Homo sapiens: one gene and its partners. The protein of the gene in region 1 interacts with the protein of each later gene in a biochemical or structural test. Each region holds a gene or a part of one and is shown in the gene's direction. Other genes may lie near its edges. The genes, in order: NOTCH3, PPIA, SNX19 and C1QL1.

What was found.
Region 2: the proteins of NOTCH3 (region 1) and PPIA form a complex in vitro, tested with the Homo sapiens proteins (one study listed by BioGRID).
Region 3: the proteins of NOTCH3 (region 1) and SNX19 form a complex in vitro, tested with the Homo sapiens proteins (one study listed by BioGRID).
Region 4: the proteins of NOTCH3 (region 1) and C1QL1 form a complex in vitro, tested with the Homo sapiens proteins (one study listed by BioGRID).

Annotation. Positions count from the first base shown.
Region 1 is NC_000019.10:15,176,719-15,184,007, reverse strand, and holds part of NOTCH3 (neurogenic locus notch homolog protein 3 precursor), read left to right. Parts: intron 1-2,206; coding exon 2,207-2,432; intron 2,433-2,845; coding exon 2,846-3,047; intron 3,048-3,179; coding exon 3,180-3,327; intron 3,328-3,751; coding exon 3,752-3,936; intron 3,937-4,511; coding exon 4,512-4,644; intron 4,645-4,657; exon of another isoform or gene 4,658-4,725; coding exon 4,726-4,983; intron 4,984-5,066; coding exon 5,067-5,185; intron 5,186-5,917; coding exon 5,918-6,483; intron 6,484-7,289. UniProt on the Homo sapiens protein: Functions as a receptor for membrane-bound ligands Jagged1, Jagged2 and Delta1 to regulate cell-fate determination.
Region 2 is NC_000007.14:44,792,207-44,799,925, forward strand, and holds the start of PPIA (peptidyl-prolyl cis-trans isomerase A), read left to right. Parts: upstream 1-4,474; 5' UTR 4,475-4,518; coding exon 4,519-4,587; intron 4,588-4,912; exon of another isoform or gene 4,913-5,415; intron 5,416-6,541; exon of another isoform or gene 6,542-6,698; intron 6,699-7,040; coding exon 7,041-7,071; intron 7,072-7,185; coding exon 7,186-7,274; intron 7,275-7,495; coding exon 7,496-7,668; intron 7,669-7,719. UniProt on the Homo sapiens protein: Catalyzes the cis-trans isomerization of proline imidic peptide bonds in oligopeptides.
Region 3 is NC_000011.10:130,865,499-130,871,517, reverse strand, and holds the end of SNX19 (sorting nexin-19), read left to right. Parts: 3' UTR 1-5,268; downstream 5,269-6,019. UniProt on the Homo sapiens protein: Plays a role in intracellular vesicle trafficking and exocytosis. May play a role in maintaining insulin-containing dense core vesicles in pancreatic beta-cells and in preventing their degradation. May play a role in insulin secretion.
Region 4 is NC_000017.11:44,965,225-44,973,078, reverse strand, and holds the start of C1QL1 (C1q-related factor precursor), read left to right. Parts: upstream 1-4,775; 5' UTR 4,776-5,030; coding exon 5,031-5,627; intron 5,628-7,854. UniProt on the Homo sapiens protein: May regulate the number of excitatory synapses that are formed on hippocampus neurons. Has no effect on inhibitory synapses.

The DNA of each region.
Region 1 (7,289 bases):
GCAGTGTTGCAATCATCGCTCACTGCAACCTCTGCCTTCTGGGCTCAAGCACCTCAGCCTCCCCAGTGGCTGCGACTATAGGCGCACACCACAGCGCCCAGCTAATATTTTGTGTTTTTTGTAGAGACGGAGTTTCGCCATGTTGCCCACGGTGGTCTCCAATTCCTGGGCTCAAGCAATCTACCTGTCTCCACCTCCCAAAGTGCTGGGATTACAGGCGTGAGCAACCACACCCGACCTAAGTGCACTGTCTTTGAGAGCAATCGAGTTAATATCATGTGCAAAGTATGAGATAAAAGGCCCCCCAGAGGCCGGGCGAGGTGGCTCACACCTGTAATCTCAGCACTTTGGGAGGCCAAGGTGGGCGGATCACCTGAGGTCAGGAGTTTGAGACCAGCCTGGCCAACATGGAGAAACCCCATCTCTACTAAAAATACAAAATTAGCAGGGCATGGTGGCGCATGCCTGTAATCCCAGCTACTTGGGAGGCTGAGGCAGGAGAATCACTTGAACCTTGGAGGTGGAGATTACGGTGAGCTGAGATTGTGTCATTGTACTGCAGCCTGGGCAACAAGGCATAACTCCGTCTCAAAAACGAACAAACAAACAAACAAACAAACAAAAAGGGGTGCTGCCAAACAGATAAATAACACAAGCCACATATGCAATTTTAAATTTTCTAGTAGCCACATTAAAAAATAAACAGAAATGGGAGATATTAAATTTAATATTTTATATTTATTTATTTATTATGTATTCAGAGTGAGGCTCTGTCGCCCAGGCTGGAGTGCAGTGGTGCGATCTTGGCTCAGTGCAGTCTCGAACTCCTGGGCTGAGGCATTCCTCCTGTCTTAACCTCCTGAGTAGCTAGGATTACAGGCACTCACTACATGCCTAGCTAATATTTTTATTTTAATTCTGTAGAGATGGGGTCTCACTGCGTTGTCTAGGCTGGTCTCAAACTCCTGGCCTCAAGCCATCCTCCTGCCTTGGACTCTCAGACTGCTGCCACTGTGCCTGACCAAATTTAATATATTTAAATTTAATTTATTGAATGTATATAATCGGCTGGGCGCAGTGGCTCACACCGGTAATCCCAGCACTTTGGGAGGCTGAGGCAGGTGGATCACCTGAGGTCAGAAGTTTGAGACCAGCCTGACCAACATGGAGAAGCCCCGTCTCTACTAAAAACACAAAATTAGCTGGGCGTGGTGGCACATGCCTGTAATCTCAGCTACTCAGGAGGCTGAGGTAGGAGAATCACTTGAACCCGGGAGGCGGAGGTTGTGGTGAGCTGAGATCGTGCCATTGCACTCCAGCCTGGGCAACAAGAGCGAAACCCCATCTCAAAAAAAATAAAAATAAAAATAAAAGTAAATAAATAAATAAATAAATAAATGTATATAATCTATTTAACCCAATATATTAACATATCATTTCAACATGTAACCAGTATAAAATTGTTAATGAGATATTTTACATTGTTTCCTTTTTTTTTTTTGAGACAAGTTCTCACTCTGTCGCCCAGACTGGAGTGCAGTGGTGCGATCATGACTCACTGCAGCCTTGACCTCCCAGGCTCAAGTGATCCTCCCGTCTCAGCCTCCCCACTAGCTGGGACTACAGGTGTGCACCATCATGCCCAGCTAATTTTTGTATTTTTTATAGAAATGGGGTCTTGCCATGTTGCCCAGGTTGGTCTCGAACTCCTGAGCTCAAGTGATCTGCCCACCTCGGCCTCCCAAAGTGCTGGGATTACAAGTGTGTGCCACCACGCCCAGCCTATTTTTTTTTTCATACCAAGTCTTCAAAATCTGAAACCCAGTATGTATTTTACATTTATAGCACATCTCCATTTAGTCACAATTTCAAGGACTCAGTAGCCACATGTGGCTAATGGCCACTGTCCTTGTCCTGTTCCAAGCACAGGAATTAGATCAGGCACAATTAGCAGCGTTTGCTTGGCAGCTTAAAGGGACCTTTTGGTTTTCCCAACATCCTGCCCTTGCCACATAGGTGAGGTTTCCAGATAAAGGAGGGGACGAGGCCACAGAAGGGGATGGATTTAGATTCCTCTGACCAAATGCACCCCATCCCAGTTGAACCTGGTTTCCTCCTGAATTCTTCTCAATCCAAGGCATATCCCAGTCAGACTGGGCTAATGGGGGCAAGGTAGGTGACCAGACCGCCTTCCTCCTGTCCGCAGACCCATGCCTGAACGGTGGCTCGTGCCAAGACGGCGTGGGCTCCTTTTCCTGCTCCTGCCTCCCTGGTTTCGCCGGCCCACGATGCGCCCGCGATGTGGATGAGTGCCTGAGCAACCCCTGCGGCCCGGGCACCTGTACCGACCACGTGGCCTCCTTCACCTGCACCTGCCCGCCAGGCTACGGAGGCTTCCACTGCGAACAGGACCTGCCCGACTGCAGCCCCAGGTGGGCGGGGCCTCTGCTTGGAGAGCAGGGACTCTGGCTTGGGATGGGGCCTGGGACCTGGGACGAAGTGGGGACAGCAACGACTTGGGGGAGTCCTCAGCTTGGTACCCACTGCGGACTCTGATGACTGATGGGGCAGGGCCAGGGAAGGAGCAGGGCGTCTGTTTGGAGCTCACCTTGGAGTCTCTGGTGCCTGAGAGGGCATGGCTTCCAGGTGGCTCTCACCTTAGGGCTGAAGTCCCTGGTGAATTGGAGCTAAGGGACCTGATTGGCTTCTGCTGGGGCTGCAGCTTCTTGCCGAGATAAGGGTCAGGGAGTGGGACGTCCCCAGCGCTAACAGCGGGACTCAGGAAGGAGGGCAGGGCCTGTGAGGGGGCGGAGCCTGATCCTCCCTCCCACTCCTTCCGCTCCAGCTCCTGCTTCAATGGCGGGACCTGTGTGGACGGCGTGAACTCGTTCAGCTGCCTGTGCCGTCCCGGCTACACAGGAGCCCACTGCCAACATGAGGCAGACCCCTGCCTCTCGCGGCCCTGCCTACACGGGGGCGTCTGCAGCGCCGCCCACCCTGGCTTCCGCTGCACCTGCCTCGAGAGCTTCACGGGCCCGCAGTGCCAGGTGGGTGGAGTTACTGGGGACCTGGGGGAGGAGCCTGCCTGGGATCCTAGGAGGGAGAAGCCAAGTCGGGGCACAGTTTCTCCCAGACTACCCCCCACCCCACAGTACTGACTCTGAGTGCTTCCCCTCCAGACGCTGGTGGATTGGTGCAGCCGCCAGCCTTGTCAAAACGGGGGTCGCTGCGTCCAGACTGGGGCCTATTGCCTTTGTCCCCCTGGATGGAGCGGACGCCTCTGTGACATCCGAAGCTTGCCCTGCAGGGAGGCCGCAGCCCAGATCGGTGAGTGGGAGCATGTGGGCGGGCGTGTGGGGCCTTGGGAAGGGGCTCATGCACGTACCTCCTGCTAGTGTGAGCCGAATGGGGGTGCCACAGAGCCTATGGGGCATGATGGGGTGTGTGGCTGAGTGGTGTGGGTGTGTGAGCATGTGACAACTGGCCGGGATGGTGTGTGTCTGTCACTGTGAGACAGCAGGGATGGTGTGTGTGCTACAGGGTGTGACCGAGCTGCTGTGAGCGTTGAAGGCATGTGTGTGTATGTCAGTGATGAGACCTTGCCTGCTGGGGGGATGTGTGACAACCTGATGGAGTGTGGGTGCGATCCTGGGGACTCATTCCACCAAGGATGTTGAATGATCTGTGTGATGGAGGCAGAAGGGGGATGTATGGGGTTACCTCTGTTCCTGTGCCACTCTCCTCTTTGCAGGGGTGCGGCTGGAGCAGCTGTGTCAGGCGGGTGGGCAGTGTGTGGATGAAGACAGCTCCCACTACTGCGTGTGCCCAGAGGGCCGTACTGGTAGCCACTGTGAGCAGGAGGTGGACCCCTGCTTGGCCCAGCCCTGCCAGCATGGGGGGACCTGCCGTGGCTATATGGGGGGCTACATGTGTGAGGTAAGGGGGCGCTCCCCAGGAGAGGGAAGAGGAGGTGGGCATGCTTGGGTGCGTCTGGGCACACATTTCTGTGTGGCTTGGTATGGGTATGTCTCTAGATATGTCTGAGTTTTTGCTTTTGTGACTCTTGGTGTATCTGTGGGTGTCACTCTGGGTAGATCTGGGGTGTTTTTTTATTTGTTTGTTTTTTTGAGACAGGTTCTCACTCTGTCACCCAGACGAGTGCAGTGGCGCGATCTCAGCTCACTGCAACCTTTGCCTCCTGGGTTCAGGTGATTCTTCTGCTTCAGCCTCTCATTATAGCTGGGAGTACAGGCACCCACCACCACGCCCAGCTAATTTTTGTATTTTTCATAGTGACAGGGTTTCACCATGTTGGCCAGGCTGGTCTCGAACTCCTGATCTCAGGTGATCTGCCCACCTCGGCCTCCCAAAGTGCTGGGATTACCTACTGGTAGTGCGCTGAACATCTGTGTGTGTCCTTTTGTGCTGGGGTTCTTTGCGTCTTCATGGGTATGTCCAGGTGGGTCTGTGTCCCACTAAGCTGAGTGGGTCCCTCTCTTACCCCACTGAAGTGTCTTCCTGGCTACAATGGTGATAACTGTGAGGACGACGTGGACGAGTGTGCCTCCCAGCCCTGCCAGCACGGGGGTTCATGCATTGACCTCGTGGCCCGCTATCTCTGCTCCTGTCCCCCAGGAACGCTGGGTATGCCAGGGCCAGGGTTGGGGGGACAGGATGAGAGGCTGTCTTCATTCCCTCTTGACCACCCCTCGTTTCTTCCCCCAGGGGTGCTCTGCGAGATTAATGAGGATGACTGCGGCCCAGGCCCACCGCTGGACTCAGGGCCCCGGTGCCTACACAATGGCACCTGCGTGGACCTGGTGGGTGGTTTCCGCTGCACCTGTCCCCCAGGATACACTGGTTTGCGCTGCGAGGCAGACATCAATGAGTGTCGCTCAGGTGCCTGCCACGCGGCACACACCCGGGACTGCCTGCAGGACCCAGGCGGAGGTTTCCGTTGCCTTTGTCATGCTGGCTTCTCAGGTAAGCGTTGGCGAAGGGGCTGGCCTGGGACCCCGCCTGTCATTCCCCCATTGTGGCTGATCTACATGCTCCCGCTCGCTCAGGTCCTCGCTGTCAGACTGTCCTGTCTCCCTGCGAGTCCCAGCCATGCCAGCATGGAGGCCAGTGCCGTCCTAGCCCGGGTCCTGGGGGTGGGCTGACCTTCACCTGTCACTGTGCCCAGGTAGGTGTGGGTGGCGGCCTTTGGAGGAGGAGTAGGGGCGTGGCCTCTGGAGTAGTAGGGGCGTGGCGTCTAGGAGGAGGATGTGGCTTTAGGGGAGACATCGAAGGGAAGGGAGTTTCTGGAAAATGCTGACATTTCCGCCGGGTGTGGTAGCTCACACCTGTAATCCCAGCACATTGGGAGGCCGAGGCGGGAGGATCACTTGAGGCCAGGAGTTAGAGACCAGCCTGGGCAACATGGTGAAACCCCGTCTCTACTAAAAATATAAAAATTAGCCGGGCGTAGTGGCAGCTGCCTGTAATCCCAGCTACTCGGGAGGCTGAGGCAGGAGAATCACTTGAACCCGGGAGGCGGAGGTTGCAGTGAGCCATCACGCCATTGCACTCCAGCCTGGCGACTGAGTGACACTCCGTCTCAAAAAACAAAGAAACAACCCCCTGCCCCGACATTTCCTGGAGGTTTGAAGGGAAAAGGGTGAGGATGGTGATTGGGGGGCGTGGCCTCCTGGGATGGCAGGGCTTATCTGCCAGGTGGGGTCTCCAGTGTGGAAAGGGGAGCGGTTGGGTGGGACATGGGGAGGTTGAGGGGGTCTCAACCTTCCTTAGTCTTGACCTCTTCTCTTCCCCCTCTCTCCCCTTGACTCTTCTTTTCCCCACTCCTCCATTTCTTCTCCTCCTTCCCTCCACTCCCCACCCTCATTTTTATCCCTCCCTCCCCAAACCCGACCCCCAGCCGTTCTGGGGTCCGCGTTGCGAGCGGGTGGCGCGCTCCTGCCGGGAGCTGCAGTGCCCGGTGGGCGTCCCATGCCAGCAGACGCCCCGCGGGCCGCGCTGCGCCTGCCCCCCAGGGTTGTCGGGACCCTCCTGCCGCAGCTTCCCGGGGTCGCCGCCGGGGGCCAGCAACGCCAGCTGCGCGGCCGCCCCCTGTCTCCACGGGGGCTCCTGCCGCCCCGCGCCGCTCGCGCCCTTCTTCCGCTGCGCTTGCGCGCAGGGCTGGACCGGGCCGCGCTGCGAGGCGCCCGCCGCGGCACCCGAGGTCTCGGAGGAGCCGCGGTGCCCGCGCGCCGCCTGCCAGGCCAAGCGCGGGGACCAGCGCTGCGACCGCGAGTGCAACAGCCCAGGCTGCGGCTGGGACGGCGGCGACTGCTCGCTGAGCGTGGGCGACCCCTGGCGGCAATGCGAGGCGCTGCAGTGCTGGCGCCTCTTCAACAACAGCCGCTGCGACCCCGCCTGCAGCTCGCCCGCCTGCCTCTACGACAACTTCGACTGCCACGCCGGTGGCCGCGAGCGCACTTGCAAGTGAGCCCATCCACCCGATCGATCCGTCTGTCTATGCATCCATCCCAGTCTGTTTGTCCGTGGGCCCTGCCTCTCTTTCCACCTGCCCATCCACTTGCCCCGTCTGTTTCTCTGTGCACTCTATCTGCCCATCGGTGTGTCCCACGTGTCTGTCCGTGTGTCTGTTCATCCATGTGCTCTGTCTATCTTGTTCTTGTTTCTATCTGCCTATGCACTTCTCTGCCCCGTTTGTCTGCCCTTTTCTCCATCCAATAATTACTTTTTTTTTTTTTTCCCGAGATGGAGTCTTGCTCTGTGGCCCAGGCTAGAGTGCAGTGGCGCGATCTCGGCTCACTGCAACCTCTGCCTCCCGGGTTTAAGCAGTACTCCTGCCTCAGCCTCTGGAGTAGCTGGGATTACAGGTGTGAGCCACCGTGCCCAGCCGAATTCCTTTTTTTTTTTTTTTTTTTTTTTAAGACGGAGTCTCGCTCTCTTGCCCAGACTGGAGTGCAATGGCTCCATCTTGGCTCACTGCAACCTCCGCCTCCCGGGTTCAAGCGATTCTCCTGCCTCAGCCTTCCGAGTAGCTGGGACTACAGGTACCTGCCACCACGCCTGGCTTTTTTTTTGTATTTTTAGTAGAGACAGGGTTTCACCATATTGGCCAGGCTGCTCACGAACTCCTGACCTTGTGATCCGCCCGCCTTGGCCTCCCAAAGTGCTGGGATTACAGGTGTGAGCCACCGCACCTGGCTCCTTTTTTTTTTTTTTTTTTTTTTTTTTAAGACAGGGTCTTGCTCTGTGGCCCAGGCTGGAGTGCAGTGGTG
Region 2 (7,719 bases), on another chromosome or scaffold:
GAGCAGCTGGGACTACAGGAGCCCACCACCATACCAGGCTAATATTTGTATTTTTAGTAGAGACGGGGTTTCGCCATGTTGGCCAGGCTGGTCTTGAACTCCTGACCTCAAGTGATCCACCTGCCTCGGCCTCCCAAAGTTCTGGGATTACAGGTATGAGCCACTGTACCCAGCCGGATGTATTTATTTTTATTTTTATTTTTATTTTTGAGACAGGGTCTTGCTCTGTTACCCAGGCTGGAGTGTAGTGGCACCATCATGGCTCACTGCAGCCTCAACCTCCTGGGCTCAAGTGATCCTCCCATCTCAGCCTCCCGAGTAGCTGGGACTATAGGTATGCACCACCGTGCTTGGCTAATTTTTATTTTTAAAAATGTTTTGACCGGGCACAGTGGTTCATGCCTGTAATCCCAGCACTTTGGGAGGCTGAGGCAGGCGGATCACCTGAGGTCAGGAGTTCGAGACCAGCCTGACCAACATGATGAATCCCATCTCTACTAAAAATATAAAATTAGCTGGGCATGGTGGTGCATGCCTGTAATCCCAGCTACTTGGGAGGCTGAGGCAGGAGAATTGCTTGAAGCCAGGACGTGGAGGTTGCAGTGAGCCAAGATCACGCCATTCATTGACCTCCAGCCTGGGCTTCAAGAGTAAAACTCACTCTGTCTCAAAAAATAAATAAATAAATAAATAAATAAATAAATAAAAATAAAATAGGCCGGGCATGGTGGCTCACACCTGTAATCCCAGCACTTTGGGAGGCCGAAGTGGGTGGATCACCTGAGGTTGGGAGCTTAAGACCAGCCTGACCAACACGAGAAACCCCATCTCTACTAAAAATACAAAATTAGCCGGGAGTGATGGCGCATGCCTGTAATCCCAGCTACTTGTAAGGCTGAGGCAGGAGAATTGCTTGAACCCAGGAGGCGGAGGTTGCAGTGAGCCGAGATCAAGCCATTGCACTCCGTCAAGAGCGAAACTCTGTCTCAAACAAATAAAAATAAAAAATAAAAGAAAATACATATTTTTTTGTAGAAGCAGGGTTTCCCTCTGTTGCCCAGGCTGGTGTTGAACTCCTGGGCTCAACCGATCCTCCTGCCTTGGCCTCCCAAAGCACTGGCATTACAGGCGTGAGCCACCACGCCCAGCCTATTTATTATTCATTCATGCATTCATTTACTTTTTTTTTTTTGAGATGGAATCTCACCCCATCCCCCAGACTGGAGTGCAGTGGTGTGATCTCAGCTCACTGCAACCTCCGTCTCCCAAGCTTAAGTGATTCTCCTGCCTCAGCTTCCTGAGTAGCTGGGATTACAGATGCGCACCACCATGCCCGGCTAACTTTTGTATTTTTAGTAGAGACGGGGTTTCACCATATTTGTCAGGCTGGTCTTGAACTCCTGACCTCATGATCCACTCACCTCAGTCTCCCAAAGTGCTGGGATTACAGGCGTGAGCCACTGTGCCCAGCCCTAATTTTTGTACTTTTTAGTAGAGATGGGTTTTCCCTGTGTTGGCCAGGCTAGTCTTGAACTCCTGGCCTCAAGTGACCCACTTACCTCGGCCTCCCGAAGTGCTGCAATTACAGTGTGAGCCACCATGCCCAGCCCTGCCCAGTTAATTTTTGTATTTTTAGTAGAGATAGGGTTTCACTATGTTGTCCAAGCTGGTCTTGAACTCCTGACCTCAAATTATCCACCCGCCTCTGCCTCCCAAAGTGCTAGGATTACAGGCATGAGCCACCTCACCCGGCCTCATTCATTTACTTCTTTGGAGGAGTTCCTAACTGCTCTACGTTTTAGGATGGAGAGAGAAATGGTAAGAATTTATGCCTGAAGGCCTTGGGCATTTTTTTTCAGTGTCAGATGAGGACAAGTGGCTTTCTTAAGATCACAAAGCAAGAAGTGATGTGGAGTGGGGGGGAAAAAAGCAGTTTCCAGTTTGGCTTTGCTAACACTCATAAGCGATTACTCTGAACAAGAAGCCAGAGCTTTACTTTACGCATCTGTAAAATGGGGATAATGGGATGGTGATGAGAACAAAACAACATAGTCTAAATTTCCAACACAGGCTGAGCATGGCGGTTCACCTGTAATGCTAGAACTTTGGGAGGCCAAGGTGGGAGAATCCTTTAAGCCCTGGAGTTTGAGACCAGCCCTGATAACACAGCCAGAACCAGTTTCTGTTAAAAAAATTTAAATTAGCTGGCACAGTGGCTTGTGCCTTTAGTCCCAGACATTTGGGAGGTTGAGGAGGGAGGAATGCTTCAGTCCAAGAGTTCGAGGTTACAGTGAGCTAGGATTGCACCACTGCACTCCAGACTAACCAACAGAGTGAGACCCTATCTCAAATAAATAAATTCCTAACACGTTGGCTCATGGTTATTAACAATGGCAAGAGGCCAGAAACTGTACTTCATCTATCAGATGAATTATCATTTTTGTCTCACCACAACCCTATCCTGGTTGTGCAGATGAAGAAACTGAGTTTTAGAAACATTAAACAACGTCCAGGTGCAGCAGCTCACGCCTATAATCCCAGCACTTTTGGGAGGCTGAGGCGGGTGGATCGCTTGAGTCCAGGAGTTTGAGACCAGCCTGGGCGATGTGGCGAAACCCCATCTTTACAAAACACACACACACAAAATGAGCTGGGTGTGGGTGCATGCCTGTAGTCCCAGCTACTTGGGAGGCTAAGGTGGGACGCTTGCTCGAGCACGGGAAGGGGAGGTTGCAGTGAGCCGATAACACACCACTGCACTTCCAGCCTAGGTGAGAGTGAGACCTTGTCTCAAAAAAACAAAAAGAAACATTAAATAATATCCTTAATATTGCAACTTAAGTGACAGCCCAGGATATATGAATTCCCTTGTAAGGTTTTCTTAACAAAACACCAGTCACATAAGTGCATTTTATTTTATATTTTTGTTTATTTATTTGAGACGGAGTCTCTGTCTCTCAGGCTGGAGTGCAGTGGCGCCATCTCTGCTCGCTGCAACCTCCACCTCCTGGGTTCCAGCGATTCTCCTGCCTCAGCCTCCCGAGGGGGTAGCTGGGACTACAGGTGCGCACCACCATGCCCAGCTAATTTTGTATTTTTCGTAGAGATGGGGTTTCACCATGTTGTCCAGGCTGGTCTTGAACTCCTGACCTCAGGTGATCCTCCCGCCTCGGCCTCCCAAAGTGCTGGAATTACAGGCGTGATCCACCGCACCCGGCCTATTTTTTGAGAGAGGGTCACACTCTGTCGTCCCGGCTGGAATGCAGTGATGCGATCACCGCCCACTACAGCCTCGACCTCCGGGCTCAAGCAATCCTCCCCGCCCAGCCTCCTGAGTAGCGAGCGCCTCGACGCCCAGCTAATTTTTATTTTTATTTATTTTTTTGTAGAGACGGCGTCTCTCTAAGATGCCCAGGCTGGTGGCCGGTGTCGAACTCCTAAGATGAAGCGATCCTCCCCGGCCTTGGCCTCCGCGCCTCCTAAAGCGCCAGGTATGAGCCACCGCGCCTGGCCTACAAGTGCATTTTAATTAAAGTATTATTAATGTCTTTGCCTGAAGAAATTCGCTTTTAAATTGTGACTTATCTTTCACCCAAAAATCAAAGCACAATTCAGCCCCGAGGCGGGGGCGGTAGGAGCTGGGCGGGGCGGGGGCAGGGAAAGACCAGGAGCAGAGATTCAAAAAGAGTAAGAGGGCAAAATGTGCATAATGCATCTTCACAGGTAAGAGCCTGGCCAGGCTCCTGTTTTAATGGCTTCCTCCTGAAGAAGATTCAAGCAGAGTGTAAGATATTTTCGGAAAGTAGAGCATTTTGAAAGCATTTCATAATCTCTCAAAACCGGAGACTGCTCCTGTCCCACCTCGTTAGAGAAAACAGCGATGCTCAAAGGCAACCTCCTTCCTGACATTGCCTGGTAGGACGCGACGTGGTGTTTGCCCGCGCGGAATGCGGACGCAAGGCTGCTCCTAGGTCTCGGGGACGCGCCATCCCCATTTCCGCTCGCGGAGGCGTAGGGTCCGGGCGCGGGACCCCAGTCGACCTTGACTGGCGGCGCGACCTTGAGGCCTGCGTTCGCCTCAGTTGCCCCCTCTGTGCAATGGGGAGACGCGCCTCATCGCTTGACAACGGCCGAAGAGCCGCCGCGCTTCCGTCTCCCGCGTGCGCGCGCCATGCTGCCCACCCCCGTTCCGCACTGACCCTCCCCCGTGCCCCGCGTCCCGTACTGCCGCCCCGCCCCGAGTCCCATGCCGCAGCCACCGCGACGGAGCCCGCAGGCGGGAACCTGCCTCCGCGCGTTAGCGCGCACGCGCGCCTCATGTGTCGTCCCCATCAGCGCCGGCTTCCGTCTATAGGCCAGATGCACTGTCACTCTGGCGAAGTCGCAGACCCGATTGGCCGGGACGGAGGCGCGAGACCGGGTTGCGGGCGGGGCCGAACGTGGTATAAAAGGGGCGGGAGGCCAGGCTCGTGCCGTTTTGCAGACGCCACCGCCGAGGAAAACCGTGTACTATTAGCCATGGTCAACCCCACCGTGTTCTTCGACATTGCCGTCGACGGCGAGCCCTTGGGCCGCGTCTCCTTTGAGGTCGGGCGGGCGGCGGCGTGCGGGAATGGGGCCCAGAAAGTGGGCCGGGGTCGGGGTGGGTGGTAGCGCCCCAAAGGCCCGGGCGCGGGGCGACCCTGCTTGAGGGGCGAGCGCGGGCGGGCTGCGGCGCCATTTCCTGACGAGGGGCCATTTTGGGAGGTCCGCGAGTCGCGGGGAGGAGGCCGGGACGGCGGCGGACAAAGGCAGGCGGGGCGGCTGCGAGGCCGTTGGGGGAGGGGGCCCGCGTCCGCCCGCCCGCCTCATGTGGCCGCGCCCTGTCCTGTCCGACGCACGTGCTCGGCGGCCGCGCTCAGGTCCGCGCCTTGAGAGTCGTTGGGCTCCGCCCTAGCTTGGCCTGGGCGCCGCAGACCGGAGCCAGAAGCACGCTCGCGGGGGCTTGCGACCGCCTTCCTGGGAAGCTGTCCCCTGGCAGGCATGGGTGCTTTACATCCTGAGCTGGGAAGCTGTTTGCTTGAGGGTTTTTCTCAAGGATCGAGGCGCGGTGTGAGCCCGTCCATGCTCGGTCCTGTAGATCCCGGGAGGCCATGTTATAAAAGGAGACTTGCTGGGATGTGACGGGTTGCCACTTGAAATATCTTCCATTTGGATAAAGTAGGAATATTTATACATGTGCCCCAAACGTCCCTCCGTGTCCCCCACCCCCAAGCGGAAATGTGAAAATGGGCCTTGCCTTTGCTGGTGCCCAAGGACCGCCTTCCACTGCAGTGACGGCGCTGGCGGGGGAGGCGCTCTTGAGCCCCTCCCGATTGTCCCTCTGCCTAGCAAGCAAGTTGCGACTGGCCACAAGGCAGGCCTCTTCCGACCAAGGTGGATTACCAGTGATTACCTAATTAGTTTTGAGAGCGTTAAATGAGTTCTTAAAGATCAGTTGTAATTATAGCATAGTATCTAAACTTGGCGCGTGTCTTCAAAGTTAAATATTGAGTACGATTCCGTTCCAGTTAACATGGATAGACCTTAGGGAGTAGCGAAATAGGATGTTAGTGGTTTTATTCCTTTAAATCACATCTCAAAAGGCCACCAATGGCTAGTTTGGGATCTTATTCCGAAAATAGATTGATCCTCATGCAGTCTTCGTGAGGACAGAGCGATTTCCTTGTTGCCTACCCTGTCCATAGTGCCTGGCACATAGGCACTGAAACACTGCATGTTAATCCACACCCCACCCCACCTATGAGTGTAGTCAAAGCTGGTAAGTGACAAGGGCTTTCGTGGAAACTTGGCCTGACCTAATGTTGGGCATCAGGTTACCCAAAGAGCTTCAGGGAAATGAGAAAGGACTTGCAGGTCTTGATGAGAATGGAGGGGTAACTGCCAATGAGGGCTTTGGCTTTAGCGAAAGTCTGAAAGGGAAGCCATAGGAACTTAAACGTACCGACTATAAAGCTCTGAGAAAAGCTGATGTTTTAGAAAGACCATACATTCTAGGTACAAATACCTAAAAACTAAAAAATAAGTACGTTGGCCAGGCGGGCGGATCACGAAGTCAGGAGATTGAGACCGTCCTGGCCAACATGGTGAAACCCCACCTCTATTAAAAATACAAAAATTAGCTGGGCGTGGTGGCGCTTGCCTGTAATCTCAGCTACTCTAGAGGCTGAGGCAGGAGAATCGCTTGAACCCCGGAGGCGGAGGCTGCAGTGAGCCGAGATCGTGCCACTGCACTCCAGCCTGGTGACAGTGAGACTCTTGTCTCAAAAAAAAAAAAGTACATTGCTATAAGAGAAGTGCACACGGATACTAGTAGTTAATTCAGTCACATCTGTGAAATAGCTTATAAAATGCTACTTTTAAACAAGCTGTTTTTATGAAAGGGCTTGTAAATGTTTATGGTATTTAAGCTACCTCTCTAGCCATAACGTATTATACATTCAAGAAAGGTTCAAAACCAGATATACTAGAAACCAATCTTTATTTTTTACCCCACTACTAGGTAAGGGGCCTGGATACCAAGAAGTGACTGCTCATCTAATCCATAAAGCTATGTTAACAGATTGGAGGTAGTAGCATTTTCATTACAAGTGACTAAAAGAACAGCTGTTTACCCCTGATCGTGCAGCAGTGCTTGCTGTTCCTTAGAATTTTGCCTTGTAAGTTCTAGCTCAAGTTGGGGGGTGGTGATAGACATTTAAGAAGCCATATATCTTTTCAGAAGTAGGTGTGATGTACTAAAAGTTTGAGACACTTTCTAGAAGTCTCACTATTTAAGTTATGACTAGTATTGGATTTTTGGCATGTCTTTGGGTTTCATGTTTCTTAACCCAACTGCCTGCAGGGCCTTATGGCTGTCAGGAGCAGTTCTTGGGAATTAAAGTAATTACTGAAGAAGTATTCTAGTGAGAAAATGAATTTATGACTCAGAAGCCCCTAAAGACATGGGTACTAAGCAACAAAATAAGCAGATGTTAATTAACTGTAATTTTCTCTTACAGCTGTTTGCAGACAAGGTCCCAAAGACAGCAGGTTGGTCCATTTTCTAAGTTTAACAAAGATGTTCCAATTGTGACAGTTTGTGTGTGTGTGTGTATATATATATTTTTATGTATGTATATATGTGTTTAATTTTTTTTTAAACAGAAAATTTTCGTGCTCTGAGCACTGGAGAGAAAGGATTTGGTTATAAGGGTTCCTGCTTTCACAGAATTATTCCAGGGTTTATGTGTCAGGTACGAAATTTACTGAATTTTATTTTATTTGGGTTGCTCCCTTCATTTGGGATTGAGCCAGAATATTTCAGGATACACATATCTGAACTGTTACTCTACCATTTCGGTTCTATTTAACCCTTCTATTCAGTTTGAACTTGGGTTTAAAGTTTGAACCTTGCAGATTTGGCACACTTCATGGTTATGTTGTCAGAAGTGACATTTTTCCTATATGTTGACAGGGTGGTGACTTCACACGCCATAATGGCACTGGTGGCAAGTCCATCTATGGGGAGAAATTTGAAGATGAGAACTTCATCCTAAAGCATACGGGTCCTGGCATCTTGTCCATGGCAAATGCTGGACCCAACACAAATGGTTCCCAGTTTTTCATCTGCACTGCCAAGACTGAGTGGTAAGGGTACAACATGGCACACTAACCACCTGACTAAATGAAAAGTTGCCC
Region 3 (6,019 bases), on another chromosome or scaffold:
TGATATGAAATACTGCTTTTCATACCTTGACACCAAGAAGAATAGACCTTATTAAGGGAGGAAAAACACTTTTGGAGTTTACCTCCTTTACACATCCTGCTTGCATGGAATCCAAATTCAGTGAGCTGACGGCAGGCCAGTTCCTTGCCACTTTATGCAGTTGTGTTTAAAGTTTACCCTCTGTTATCTATAAATGCAAGTGGCTTTTTCAAGAATAGTGAGGGCAGCTTTCATTAAGGACTCATGCATCTCTAGGAGAATCACATGGGCTTAGTTGGCAGTAGAGCATTTTCTTGGGGACAGAATGTATTATAGATGGTTTAGGCAGGAGGTTAGACGAGAAACTTCCAAAAAAATCTAGGGATTTTTTATTCTGCCCAAACCAGCATGTTCCTTCCTGCTTTCATTTTTTTGTTCATGTCCTTCCTTCCACGTGGTAGATTACCTTCTCTTCTCCAGCTGGGCAAGTAGGCTACCTCTGCCCATAAGGACCAATTCAAGTTCCATTTTCAAGAAGCACTGTCTGATTGCACCAGCCAAAACTCTTCCCACTTTCTTTTCAGTTATTTACACTGCCTCTCTAGTCAATGTGCATGTATATGAAGTCCTCAGTAAGAGACTATAATTCTTCAAGGGCAACGAACATATCTTTTATCTTTTTTAGTCCTATTATGTCCTTATGCCCCCCCCCCAACTATATGTATATACCTAGTGCATGATAGGTACAAAATAAATATTAAAGTTTACTTAATTAAAGATTATGTTTATTTAAGAGGCAAAATTTGTGAATAAGTCTGGATCTTGATACTGTTACTTTCATTTTGTTGATTCCTTTCTCCCAACCTTCCACATCCCAGAGACAGGGTGCTGGTGACTTTTATGGAAAGGCTTGAAGGGTGAAGATATGTGGAGAAACCACCGTAAACCTCTTTGAGATTAACCACTTATTCCAGTGGAGGGCACTGGCTAGTCTGTACCAGACCTGCCCCAGACAGCTTTGTACATCTTGCGTGTGGGTGGGAACCCAAAAAGTTTCCTTTTCAGTGGATCTGTTTAGGTGAGGTAAAGAAATCCATTACTCAAATGTTTCATCAGAGGCTACCCCCTGTTCAGGTGTGCACCCTGCACCCATGTGGGTTTGCGGATGGCATATAACACTTGCAGCAGCAGAGCTCGTTGCCACACATCCAAGGGAAGTAAGTGTGCATATGTGGATGCGGCGGGAATACCTGCGGTCTTTCTGCTGAAGAGCAGGGTTATACACCTCCTTTTAGCAATCTGGAGAGGACTGAGGCAAGAGCTTGTATTGAAACACAAGCAAGCTCCACGTATGGTTTTGGACATGGAAGAAAGAGTACTGTTGGGGTGGAATGACCTAAGTTTTTAATAGGATTAGGATTTCTGTGGATTTTTCCCAAGTGATAGAAGTTTTCTTCATCTAGCAGGGAGCCTCACCCAATTGCTTCTCTATGTTCATTTCTGAAACTCCTTTGTTAAAACTAAATAGCAACAGAGAAGAAACTTTCTTCAAAAAACTCTTCATATCTGTCATTTCTCCTATTCTTATGGAACTTCACAATTGCTTTTTCTTTATTCCTTTTTTTTTTTCTATATCAGCTCATCAGTCTTTGTGGGTGACTTGGCTACCCCACTAATCTAATTGCCTTTTTGATAGTTAAATCAATATGGACATCAACTTAAGGCTATATGTGAACCTTAAATGCATGATATTCCCTATACTTGATTCCACAATTGATATTCTGTGAGGAAAGTTGGCCAGATATTCCCTTCTGTGAAGTCAGAATAACTACCGACCCTAAGAATAAACATTTTGACCAATTCTTTATATGTTGCAAACTATTCACACAACTAGAAAGTTTAGCCATTCACATCTCTTCCCCTGATTTTAAGTCCCAGATTCTGAGACTCAGAAAGTTTAGTGACTTGTTGAGCTTTCTGTGGAAAATCTGTTGTAAAAACAGTTCAGACATTGGAAAATATAAAATAGCCCCTAGAGATCCCAATAAAGCTTCCTCTCCCCAAATCCCTCTACAAGTTTATCCTCGAAAAACTTTCTGAAAACTGATGAGAAAATACTGAGTAATTAATGCTCAAATGGGAAAGATGACATGTAAAAGCAAAAACCTGTTAATGGCATCTGTTCATATAGTTCCATGTGCCTTTTTACTTAACTGCACTGATAGGCAATGTAATGAAGAAGTTTCCTTTTAAAACGTAAAATGTAATTAAACAGAGTTTATCTTAAATTGGCTGGACCCGCACAGCTTGACTGAGACATACACAGCTGTCTTCATTTTGAAGCACCTACACTAGTCAAGCTTCTTTCTAACCCGCCCTTAGGGTTTGCCTGTTGGTCTGTCTTCCCTACTGGGCTGTTAATCCCTTGGAGGCAGATTGTCTTGTTTCCCAGAGTTTTTCCAGCATATACCATGGCAGACAATTTTCACCTTATCTATTCTAACTCGTAAGCCTCAGCTAGTGCCTCCATCCTCGGGTGCATAGCCCAGTGACAGGCATGTAACAGACTTTGCCTACAAGCAGTTGCTGATCCATAAATGACGTTGGCAACCTTCTTGTGGCAGTGAGTAACATATTTCTTTCCTCCTGATAGGCTTGGAATCCTCATCCCCATCTGGCAATTTTCTTTCCATCTTTCCTACACTCACAATGGAGCCCACACGCCTCACAACCCCCTTGACTAAACCAGATGACAGCAAGAATGCCTAGTTCCAAGTGAGCAAGGGTGAAGCCTTAGGCCCTTGTCTCCTCCAGACCTCCTCTCTGCTCTAAGAGTATACTGGGCATGGGGTGTGGTCGGGGGGTTGGGGGCGGAGGAGTACTTAACCTCAAACTGAGAAAAAGGGTGTCCTGAGCAAGTTTCATAGCGTAGCAGCTTCCATTTGAAATGTGAAGCTTTGAAGGCCTGTTGCTACAGTAACCAGCTAGCTCCTGACTCCAATGCCTGTCTAATCTAAGGTGGAAATGTCCCAGAAACAGACCCCAGGCTGGCAGCTCTTAACTATGACCCATCTCATAAGCACATATCCAGCTGTAGCCTCTTGGTTGCTGGGGTGAAGGGGCCTCTGTATCGCCACAGGAAAAAAAATCTGATAAATTACGGGCTCAAGAAGGGTGTTGCTTTTTTTTCCACTAACAGACTTTGCAACCCAGTTCCTGGTGAAAGGGCTCCGCACCCACCCGTTTTGTGTGTATAATGCTGAGCTAAAGTGGGAAGGAGCAGTAACACCAAAGGAGGCTAATTCTCTTCCTGTCAGTAGGAGAGAGTGTCTGCCCCCAGTGTGTGAAAAGGGAAGGCATGAGAAGTGAAAAATCAGCCTTCTGGAAGCACCTTCTTACCACGAGAAAACAGGTGATTCTTACTATCTTTGAGACTCATCCAGATTGTGTCTGTTTAACTCTTCAGGCAATATGAAGGCAGAGAAGCCATTTCAGAGAAGAGATTTTTTAAAAAATCATTTCGTTCTTTGGCATTGTCACAGGATTATGATGTGGGTTCTCATAAAAATTTCACTCCCCCCAAAGCCACCCAAAGGAAAGGCAGTGAAATGGGGAGGAACACACATTTGCCTGGCATCGCAAGAGCTGCCTTGTAGTCATGGGTTCCAGTGATCTTGGACCGATCTCTTCACTTCCCTGGACCTCAGTTTCTTCCATACAAAGAAGTTGAACTGGATCATAGAAAAGATGCTGTCCAGCTTGGTAATATCAGATAGGGAGCAGAAGCTGTCTCTTAGCACATGGCCAGATTCCGGAACAACGATGATGGTCTCCATGTTTGTCCTAAAAATGCATCTCATCTCAGTAGAGATTTTCTTCCACCTCATTTGGGTCTCAATTTAAGGAAGGAAGAAAGGAAAGAAACCCGGGGATTCTCTTCTTGAAAGGAATATACTTCACTTTCTCTAGGCTTCTAGGATAAAAACTTCCTATCCTTCATTTTTCCTCTTTAAACCTGCCAAAATCAAGTTGAGTAAAGATACCATACAGATATGAAAAAGAAGCCACATCCTTAAATTTTCATGGAGTCCAAGAGCCTGCTCACCGCCAGTTAGCTTTTCCCAGGATGGTGGTGGCACTGATCATCTAGGTTGCACTTTTATGTTCATGTCCCAGAGCGTTTCCCATCAGCCATCTCATTTCATCTTTTCATCATTCCTCTGAGGAAAAGACTTCACACATGTATAGGACTTTCTATATCACAAAGTATTTCATATCCAATGTCTTATTTAGATCTTGACAATCACTGTTTAAGGTAATTTGGCAAGTTATTAATACTCATGTCCTCATTTTACTGAAGAGGAAACTGAAATGCAGAGAGCTTGTCTTTTGCCCAGGATCACTCACCCAGTTTATTGGGAGGCAGCAGCACGGGGATTAAGAACATGGGTTATGCCGACAACCAACCAGGCAGAATTCCAGCTCTGTCAGTAGTTAGCTGTCTGGCCTTAGGAAAGGGATTTCACACCTCTGTGGCTTAGTTTCCTTGTCCATTAAATGCTCATAAGAATAGAGCTTTCCTCACAGAGATTGGGTGGGCACGGGAGCTAAATGAGCTCATACGTTTAAGAACAACCTCTAGCACACAGTGCATAATAAATGTCATTATTATTAGCAAAGCCAGGACCTGGGTCTTCCAGCTTCTAGCTCAGTGGCATTTCTGCTGCCCCACACCAGGACTATCCTTCGTATACAGGTATGAACCTAAAGCCTTCAGTGTTTCAATGAAAAGTTCACCCAAGGTCTTTCTGTTCAGTAAGTCTAGAGCTAAGGGCTCCTGGCACTCTGTTCAGTCCTTTCGCTGGTAAACCACGCTGCCCTCCGTTGCTCTGGGCAGAATGTCAAACCTTCTTATGTTTTTAAAATTTATAAATCAAGCACTCTTATTTAATATTACTGACAGCCCGAAGGCAGACGCTCCCACTCTCCTGGGGAAGAGGGTCTTCTAATCTGCCATCTTAAGGAGGTAAAAGGGCTTGATTGGGTAACTCATTGCAATGGGCACGTATTTATTACTGTCTCCCGGCCTTTTCTCATGCTGTTTGTCTGCTGGAATTACCACTAGTGCCAGGCCATTTGAATATTTGACCATTTGTCTTAGAATTCTCTGAATACAAATGTTTTTCATACCTTTACTATGTACTTTTTAAGAATGAAGACTATGTTGCATGTTGGTTTGTACTCTCTCCTGCACATAAAAAATGCTTAGTAAATAGATACACAAATGTTTCTTGATTCCTAAATTGATTGACTGTTCGGGGAACTAATGGTCACTTCTAAGTGGTTGACAGTTGTCTCTTCCCACCTCTTAGTCGCAAGTTTCAGATGATCAAAGAATGCCTAGGTGGCATTCAACAGTATATGCCTCCGTAAAGGTAGAAGGTTTAGGAGTCGTATGTGCAAGAGTGGAAGAAGTTCTCCCTGCACACACAGGAGGCCATCTGCTACAAAGCCTCAGAACCTGGCCTCTGCCCTGTCAGCCTGCATGCTGCGTGCATGGAAAAACAGGCCTGAGCCAGGGCTTACCCTGTCACCCAAAGTCCACTCCATGTAGTATGCCCGAAGCAAACATGACCTTGTTCTACAGTTAAAAACAAATGAAAGTCATCTGCCGGGGTCACTTGGTAATAAAGTCCTGCGACAGAAGGGGCTCTGCTTAAAGGGCAGCTCAGATCCAGGCATTAAAATAACCTAAATGGTGTCGTTTTCTGATCAAATTCCTTTCCCTGTCGGGTTTGTGATTTTTGAGCCTGAGAATGTCCCTCGCGGCTCAGGTTTCTCTGCTGTCACACTGATCTCAGGCCTGGAATGCAAGCACTGGCCATTGAGGTCTGATGTAACTATGTCACAATCCCAAAATGGAGAGACATTATCTCATAGATGGTGCAGCAGGCGGGCACCAGTGTGCGGCTGGCAGGCACGGCTGAGAATGCAGTCCTGGGCATATTCCACATCCACAGTTCTCAGTGGACACAGGGTC
Region 4 (7,854 bases), on another chromosome or scaffold:
AATGGGGAAAATGATAGTACCTACCTCATGAGGTTAATACTAGTACGTGACATAAGCCATGTAATAGTTTTAAATCCATGATAATAGGTTAAGTGTAAATGAGATAATCCATAAAAGTGCTTAAGAACAGGATCTTGGCCAGGCGCGGTGGCTCATGCCTGTAATCCTAGCACTTTGGGAGGCCTATTGGGGGTGGATCACAAGGTCAGGAGATCGAGACCATCCTGGCTAACATAGTGAAACCCTGTTTCCACTAAAAATACAAAAAACTTAGCCAGGCATAGTGGCAGGCACCTGTAGTCCCAGCTACTCCGGAGGCCGAGGCAGGAGAATGGCGTGAACCCAGGAGGCAGAGCTTGCGGTCAGCCGAGATCGCACCACGGCACTCCAGCCTGGGCGACAGAGAGAGAATCCATCTAAGAAAAAAAAAAAGAACAGGATCTTGCACTTTGTAAGTGCTCAAAAACTGTTAGCTATGGTAATTATTGTGGCAAAGTATCCTATCTTTCTGCACGTGTCCCCCACCAAACAGTGAACTCCTCAGGGGCACCGCTCAGCCTTCCGGTCCTACTCATCTTGGGACACACCATCACCACCTAGCTAGGTGTTTTCACCCAGGCAGGACCTAGCTAGCTGTTTTCAGTAAATGTAAAAACAACTCAATGCAGATCCAGCAGCTGATGAGTCAGGGCACAGCACCCCCCTTCCTCACTCCCAAACCCAGACACACAGCAACATCAACAGCCTCTTACACATTCACACCCACTCACATTCATTCAAAGAACCCCAAAATACCACAGAACAGTCACTCAGTTCCTAAAGTCAGTGCCAGTCATGCCTGGGTAAAAAGCCTTACCTACGCTCTTCCCTGTACCTTCCACAATCTACCTCAATGCCTGGAATGACTGGGGCTGTCGGCACCACCCCCTCACTGTAGGAGTTCCTATGGTAGGGTCATTCCAGATGGGGGCTGTGGGAGTGACCCCTCACACTCATAGAAGTTCGGGAAGCAAAGTTAGACCTTCAGCCCCCCACTGACAGCATCCCAGCTACAGAGAGTGCAGCCGCCCTCCTTACCTTGAAACCCTCCCTCCCTTTTCGCTTCTGAAAACCTGAGTCCTGGCCCCGGCTGGGCAAGCTGGCTCAAGCCTGTAATCCCAGCAGGAAGCCCAGGCAGGCAGATCACCTGAGCTCAGGAGTTTGAGACCAGCCTGGCCAACATGGTGAAACCATGTCTGTACTAAAAATACAAAAATTAGCTGGGCATGGTGGCACGTGCCTGTAATCTCAGCTCTTCGGGAGGCTGAGGCAGAAGAATGGCTGGAACCTGGGAGGCGGAGTTGGGGTGAGCCGAGATCGCACGGTTGCACTCCAGCCTGGGCAACAAGGGCGAAACTCAGTCTCAAAAAAAAAAAAAAGAAAGAAAGAAAAAAAAGAAAACCTGAGTCCTTGTTCTTAGCAGGTGGTTGAAGAAGAGGCCTGGAAGCCGGAACTTCAGGGTTCTTCCCTCACTCATCCAGTTCCATCTCTGAACCTGGGAGCCTAGGTCCATTGTCCCCCTCTCCTAGTGTCAAGGACAGCAATGGGTAGGAAGCTGGCAGGACCAAGTAGACCCAAGGCCCGGGGGTCTCCTGAGAGGGCTTTCTTGGCCTTGAGGTGAAATAGTTATATTAGCTACCATTTACGAGGTGTATAATAAGGGTCAGATACTGAGCCCAGGACTTTACATACGTAATACATCATTTAATCCTCACAACCACCCTTTTACCAAAGGATGCCAGGGGCTGCTGGGTAGGCTATTTACCTAAAATCACCGGGTAGGATTGGCACGCAAGCCGTTTTAGTTTTTGTTCTTAATGAGACAGGGTCTTGCTCTGTCGCCCAGGCTGGAGTGCAGTGGCGCAATCTCAGCTTATTGCAGCCTCGACCTCCCAGGCTCAAGCGATCCTCCCGCCTCAGCCTCCTGAGTAGCTGGGACTACAGGTAAAAGCCACAACGCCAGGATCTCCCTATGCTGCCCAGGCTTGTTCGGAACTCCTGAGCTCAAGCGATCCTCGGGCCTCAACCTCCCAGAGTGCTGGGATTACAGACGTGAGCCACCGCGCCCGGCTGGCACTCAGGTCTTTAATTTCAGAATCTTCAACAGTCCAGCTTTAAACAATGTTGGGGGGCAGTATGGCGGATGGGGGGGTTGTGACTGTCTTCAGGTGTTAAGCTGGGAGATGCCCCTCAAGGCAGCACTCTCTCCCCAATCAGCCAAGCCCTCATCTCCCGGAAAGAGGGGCGCTGAGAGCAGGGGATGGGGGTGGAGGGTCGGGTAGGTGGTTAAGGGGTGCTTCTTTGGGGGCCTGGGCGGAGCCAGGGCGGGGCTTGGCGAGCCCAGGGGAGGCGCCAAGCCGGTGGCCCCAGCTCACAGGCCAAGATGGCTGTTAATTAAAGTGCTGGCACCAGCTCCTCTCTGCAAAGTTTGAAGCCGTTATTTTCCACTCCAGCGAAGCGGGGAGAATCCGGCTGGGCTGACGGAGACGCCACACCGCGCCAGGGGAGCAGGAGCTTTTTCGGAGCGGGAGGCGGGGCGCCGTGTGGCTGCGAGCGCGCCTCTTGGATGCCCCGGCCGGCGCGGGGGTGGGTGGGCGCTCCCGCCCCATCCTTGGCCCCGGGCGGCCAGCCGCGGTGTGCCCGGAGGGCTCTGCGAGGGCTGTGGGTGGCGGGCGAGCCCCAGCGGCGTAGCAGAGGAGGGGCCCCCGAGCGAGCGTACTAGGGAGAAGGGGGTCCGTGCAAATCCCAGGCTGACGACCGCGCACGCGCCCCTCGGGTCACCAGCCCTGTCGCTCTTGGTGGGGCACACCGAGGAGACCGCCGTGGGGAACCGGGGACCGGATTGCCTGACAGCCGAGCGCTGAAGACTACTCTTCCTGAGCCTAGGGAGGTCTGGCTGCCCTGAGCCCCCTACCCCTGGGCTTTGGGCAGTAAACGGTACCTAGAGACTCTATCGCGCTGAGGTTGGAAGAGCCTGGAGCCAGGCTACGAGTTTGAGTCCCGGCTCTCCCACTTATTAGTTGTGTGACTTTAAGCAAATCTCTTAACTTCCCAGAGCCTCAGTTCTCCATCTGTAAAATTAAAATAATCTTGGATTTTACTTCTTTGGACTGATGTGAAGATCAAGGGTGATCATGTATGTAAAACATTCAACACAGGGCCTAGCACAGAGTAAACCCTGAATAAATGCTACTTATTGAAAATTTTTTAGCTCCCTCCTTGGTGGTGGTGGGGTCACTCCAACCTGGCCTCAGCCATTAGTGCTTGGAGGGTCCTCTTTCACAGCCCCCTCGTTGGATGTCCCTGTGTCCTTCTACTCCCAGCCCTGGATGAGGTGAGCGACCTCAACCTTGGGTAGGGAAGGCCAGGGAATCATTTTGCCCATGGTGAAGGGTCAACAGGGAGAGTGTGAGCCGGCGGGGGGTAGCTCTCGGGAGAGGAGAGGCTGGGATGTCATTCTTTAGCAGCCGGCCAGTCGCCTCCGAATGGCTGAATCCTCCCCGGTGGGCCGGATAAAGGAGGGCGAAGGAGGAGCGGTGGAGCAGCCCGACCTGGGCCTCAGATAATGTGACAAATATTTTGATGGAAGCAGACACGTTTCGGTTTATGCAACCTAAACACTTTGCTGCACTTGAGGAAGAGGAGAGCCTCCCACAGCCTGATGGGGAGAAGAGTTAGGGGGCGGCGGAGGAGGCTGGGGAGTGAGGGAGGAGGAGCTGAGGGGCTGGATGAGATCCACCCCTCATCCTGGAGGCTGGAAAAGGGGGTTACCCCTCAGGGACGTATTTGCATCTGTCAGCATGGAGAAATAACGTGGGGGTGCCCACCTTTTTAGGATCCCCTTTTCTCCCTGGTCTAGAGGCAGAAGTAAAGGGATTGAGCAGAGGGAGATGGAAGAAAAGGGCCCAGGAAAAAGCAGCCTGGCCACAGTTCGGTGAGGAAGGGGCAGAGGCGAGGAGGGGTTGGAAGCTCCTGCCCCACCTCGGGGGAGACGGGTCCCGGAACAGTCAGATCCAGAAAGGAGGAGGCGGCTGCCGTCTGGCTCCGCTGGGCCCCCGGACAGGCATTCATCCGATATCTGGATCTCCCAGACGGGTGGTCTGCGAGGCCTGAGTGCCAAATGGTCCCCTCCGTATCCTCTTCTTCGCTTCATAACCCCCTTTCTCATCCTACCTTCCAGCTCCCCGCTCCGTCCTCCCCTCAATCGCTCTTTGTCCCCTGCAGACCTGGGCGCTATCCCCTCGCTTCCGCCCCCTGCGGGTCTTGGCCCGTCGCGACCCCAGTCCCTCTGTTTTCCTGGTGACCGACCCTCGAAGCCTCTCCTCTCCCGATCCCCTCGGAGCTCTCTAGCTCTCCCTGTGGCCCTCTCTCCCTTTCGCATTTTGGTCCCTACTCTCCCCTTCCCTTGGAGCGCCTCTCGGGTCTCTCGGACCCCGGCCCCCACCCCATTTCCGAATCTCGGTCTCCGCGTACTCAGTCTCTTCTTTCCTCTCCCTGCTCCCGCCCGGGGTCTCCGCGGCCCCGCCCCCTTATGCCCCGCCCACCTCGAGGCGCCCGCGGCCCAATTAGGCGCCGGCCCCGCCCGCAGCCCCACCCCTAGAGAGCCCAGAGCCGCGCGGAGCTGGCGGGGCGGGGCCCGGCCGAGGGGGCGGTGGCCCGGCTCAAGGAGGCGGGAGGAGTCAGGCGGGAGGCTGCAGGCGGGAGGCGGGAGGCGGGAGGCGGCGGCCGCGGCGCTCAGTCCGGCAGCGCAGCAGGAGGGAGGCGCGAGGCAGGAGCCGGCGGCTGGGCTCCGCAGCGCAGCCAGCGCAGCGCGGCGCCCCGGGCCCGGCCCCATGCCCGCAGCCCCGCCGGACCGTCCTTGAGCGCGGGCGCCTAGCCCGCGCCCCCTGCCCGCCGGCACCATTGCCCCGACGGCGCGGCCGGGCGGCCCGGCGCTCCCCAGGCTCCGCGCGGGCCGAAAGACGCTGCTAGCGGCCGCCGCGGGTGTGGTGATGCTGCTGGTGCTGGTGGTGCTCATCCCCGTGCTGGTGAGCTCGGGCGGCCCGGAAGGCCACTATGAGATGCTGGGCACCTGCCGCATGGTGTGCGACCCCTACCCCGCGCGGGGCCCCGGCGCCGGCGCGCGGACCGACGGCGGCGACGCCCTGAGCGAGCAGAGCGGCGCGCCCCCGCCTTCCACGCTGGTGCAGGGCCCCCAGGGGAAGCCGGGCCGCACCGGCAAGCCCGGCCCTCCGGGGCCTCCCGGGGACCCAGGTCCTCCCGGCCCTGTGGGGCCGCCGGGGGAGAAGGGTGAGCCAGGCAAGCCGGGCCCTCCGGGGCTGCCGGGCGCGGGGGGCAGCGGCGCCATCAGCACTGCCACCTACACCACGGTGCCGCGCGTGGCCTTCTACGCCGGCCTCAAGAACCCCCACGAGGGTTACGAGGTACTCAAGTTTGACGACGTGGTCACCAACCTAGGCAACAACTACGACGCGGCCAGCGGCAAGTTTACGTGCAACATTCCCGGCACCTACTTTTTCACCTACCATGTCCTCATGCGCGGCGGCGACGGCACCAGTATGTGGGCAGACCTCTGCAAGAATGGCCAGGTGGGCCAGGCGGGGGCATGGGGCTGGGCTGGGCCCAGGGCACCCAGGGAGCCCGGGGCAAATGGGTACCTGATCGGAGTTGGCGGGGGCGCCAGGCGGACGCAGGTGGAGATCCCACCCCACAGCGGCCCCGCTTGGTCATCACGTGTGGGGATGGTCGGAGCCAGCGGACATCGCCGATCCTCAGTTCCTGGGTTCCCGCTCCAAGACAGACGCTGCTGGGCACCGTCTGGAACGCTACTGGAAATGCGGGAAATGAACCCAACTAGTCAGAGCGCAGGGCTCCCAGGTGCACGGACTTGCCCTTGGGGGCTTGCCCCTTGGGAAGTGGATTCGGGCCGACAGCAGTGGGCGATAAGGGGAGGGCAAGGATGGGCTCTGGCGTATGGAACAGGGAGAAGCAGCATCCGCGCCCGCGGGCGCCTAGGCGCGTGGCCATGGGCGCGAGCGGAGAAGGCTGGCTGCAGGAAATGTTTGGGGCACAAAGGCAAAGGGAGCCCGGTGCTTACAGCCCTGGCTGCAGTGCCTCCCCTGCCCTGGAGAAGGGACCATTGGGCGAATCTGACACCCTTTGCAAAATCCGGGAGTTGGGGAGCTGTTTCCCACTGTAGCAGAGCTTCCCCAAAAAGAAGGCAGTCTGGGGGGCGGGGGAGTTTTTCCTCCTGAGGCGGGGAGGGGGTGGGGGGTGGGGGGTGGTGGAAGAGATGGAAACTCCCCCTCCTCTTGGTCTCCCAGCTCCAGCCCCTCCTGACTCTGGAGTGTGTGGGGTCCTCTCCATTCTCCGTCCCCATCTCAGACGCTGCAGCTGGAAAGCACTGAGTGTGTCGGGGACTCTGGTACCGGGACTCGCATGTGCGTGTAGCTCTCCTTGGAATGGCCGACCCCAGGACCAGCCTCCACCCAGCCCCGCCCTGGGGTGACAATTTTAGCCAGCTCTCTTGATACCACCTCCCTTCCCAGTGCTCTCACTCGTGGTGGCCTGTGACCTGGGGGTGTGGTCAGGCTGAGCATTCTCTTCGAAGAAGGGGACCACTGGTCAGAACTAAAGCTGAGCTAGTGGAAGTTGAGAAGGAATCTCTCACGATTAAGATACAAGACCTTGTTGGAACCCTTCCCACAGCAGCACTGCCCTGAGGCTCTGCCAGCCTGCGGGTCTGCAAGTCTTAGGGGCAGAGACAGGGGCAGGCAGGGAAAGTGAGCAGATAGCCTGCCAGGTGCTTATAAGTCAGCCCTTCTTCTCTTTCCTCTGCCTGGCTGCTGCCCCGCCAACACCTTTTCTCTGGTTTCTGCCTCTCCCCTGCCTCTTTCTTCTATTTTGCTGTTTCTTGTCCATCTCTCTCCTGTGTCTGCCTTTTCCATCTCTCCCTGGGTTTCTGGCCTCTCCTCCCCGGATCTAACCCCACTCTTCTCTATTCCTTGTATGTCTCTCTTTCCCACGTGTGTCTATCAGACATCCCCGTGTCTCTCCTCTTTGTCCTTGGTTCCTGACCAAATGGGAGGCCCCAGTATCCAGCAAAGGCTCATTCTGCAGACAGCCCCATGATTCCCCCTATTAATCACCAATAAGGGATGCAGCAATGTCACCTTCATCAATGGAATGTCTTCCTTTCCCAAAGAAGTTTGGGCTGACACAGAGCTGAGGTTTCAGGGGATTGGCAGCTTGCCTGGATAGGGAGGCAGTCATTGGGCCACAGGTTGGCCCTAGACCCTGCACCACCTCAGGAAGTCCCAGCAGGTCCCCAGAGATGAGGCAACAAGAGGCCCCGGAGATGCTATGTGCTTAGAATGGGGAACTTGCTTCAGTCACTGGGAGGTAAAACCATCTCAAAAGCTCCTTTTCCCTCCAGCAGGGGCAGGGTGTTGACAGAGTCTGATGAAGGGGTGCTCACTGGAGATGGGACCACAGGCTAGTAGGAAAAAAGGAGGTGGCTTTAACTAGGGGTTTCAAAGGCCCAGCACTTTAATAGTTATTCAGACCAGCCCCCTCAAAAGAAAAACAGGAGAGGCTGGGCCTGGTGGCTCACGTCTGTAATCCCAGCACTTTGGGAGGCTGAGGCAGATGGATCAACTGAGGTCAGGGGTTTGAGATCATCCTGGCCAACACAGCGAAACACCATCTCTATTAAAAATACAAACATTAGGCCAGGCACGGTGGCTCACGCCTGTAATCCCAGCACTTTGGGAGGCCGAGGCAAGTGGATCATGAGGTCAGGAGATCAAGACCATC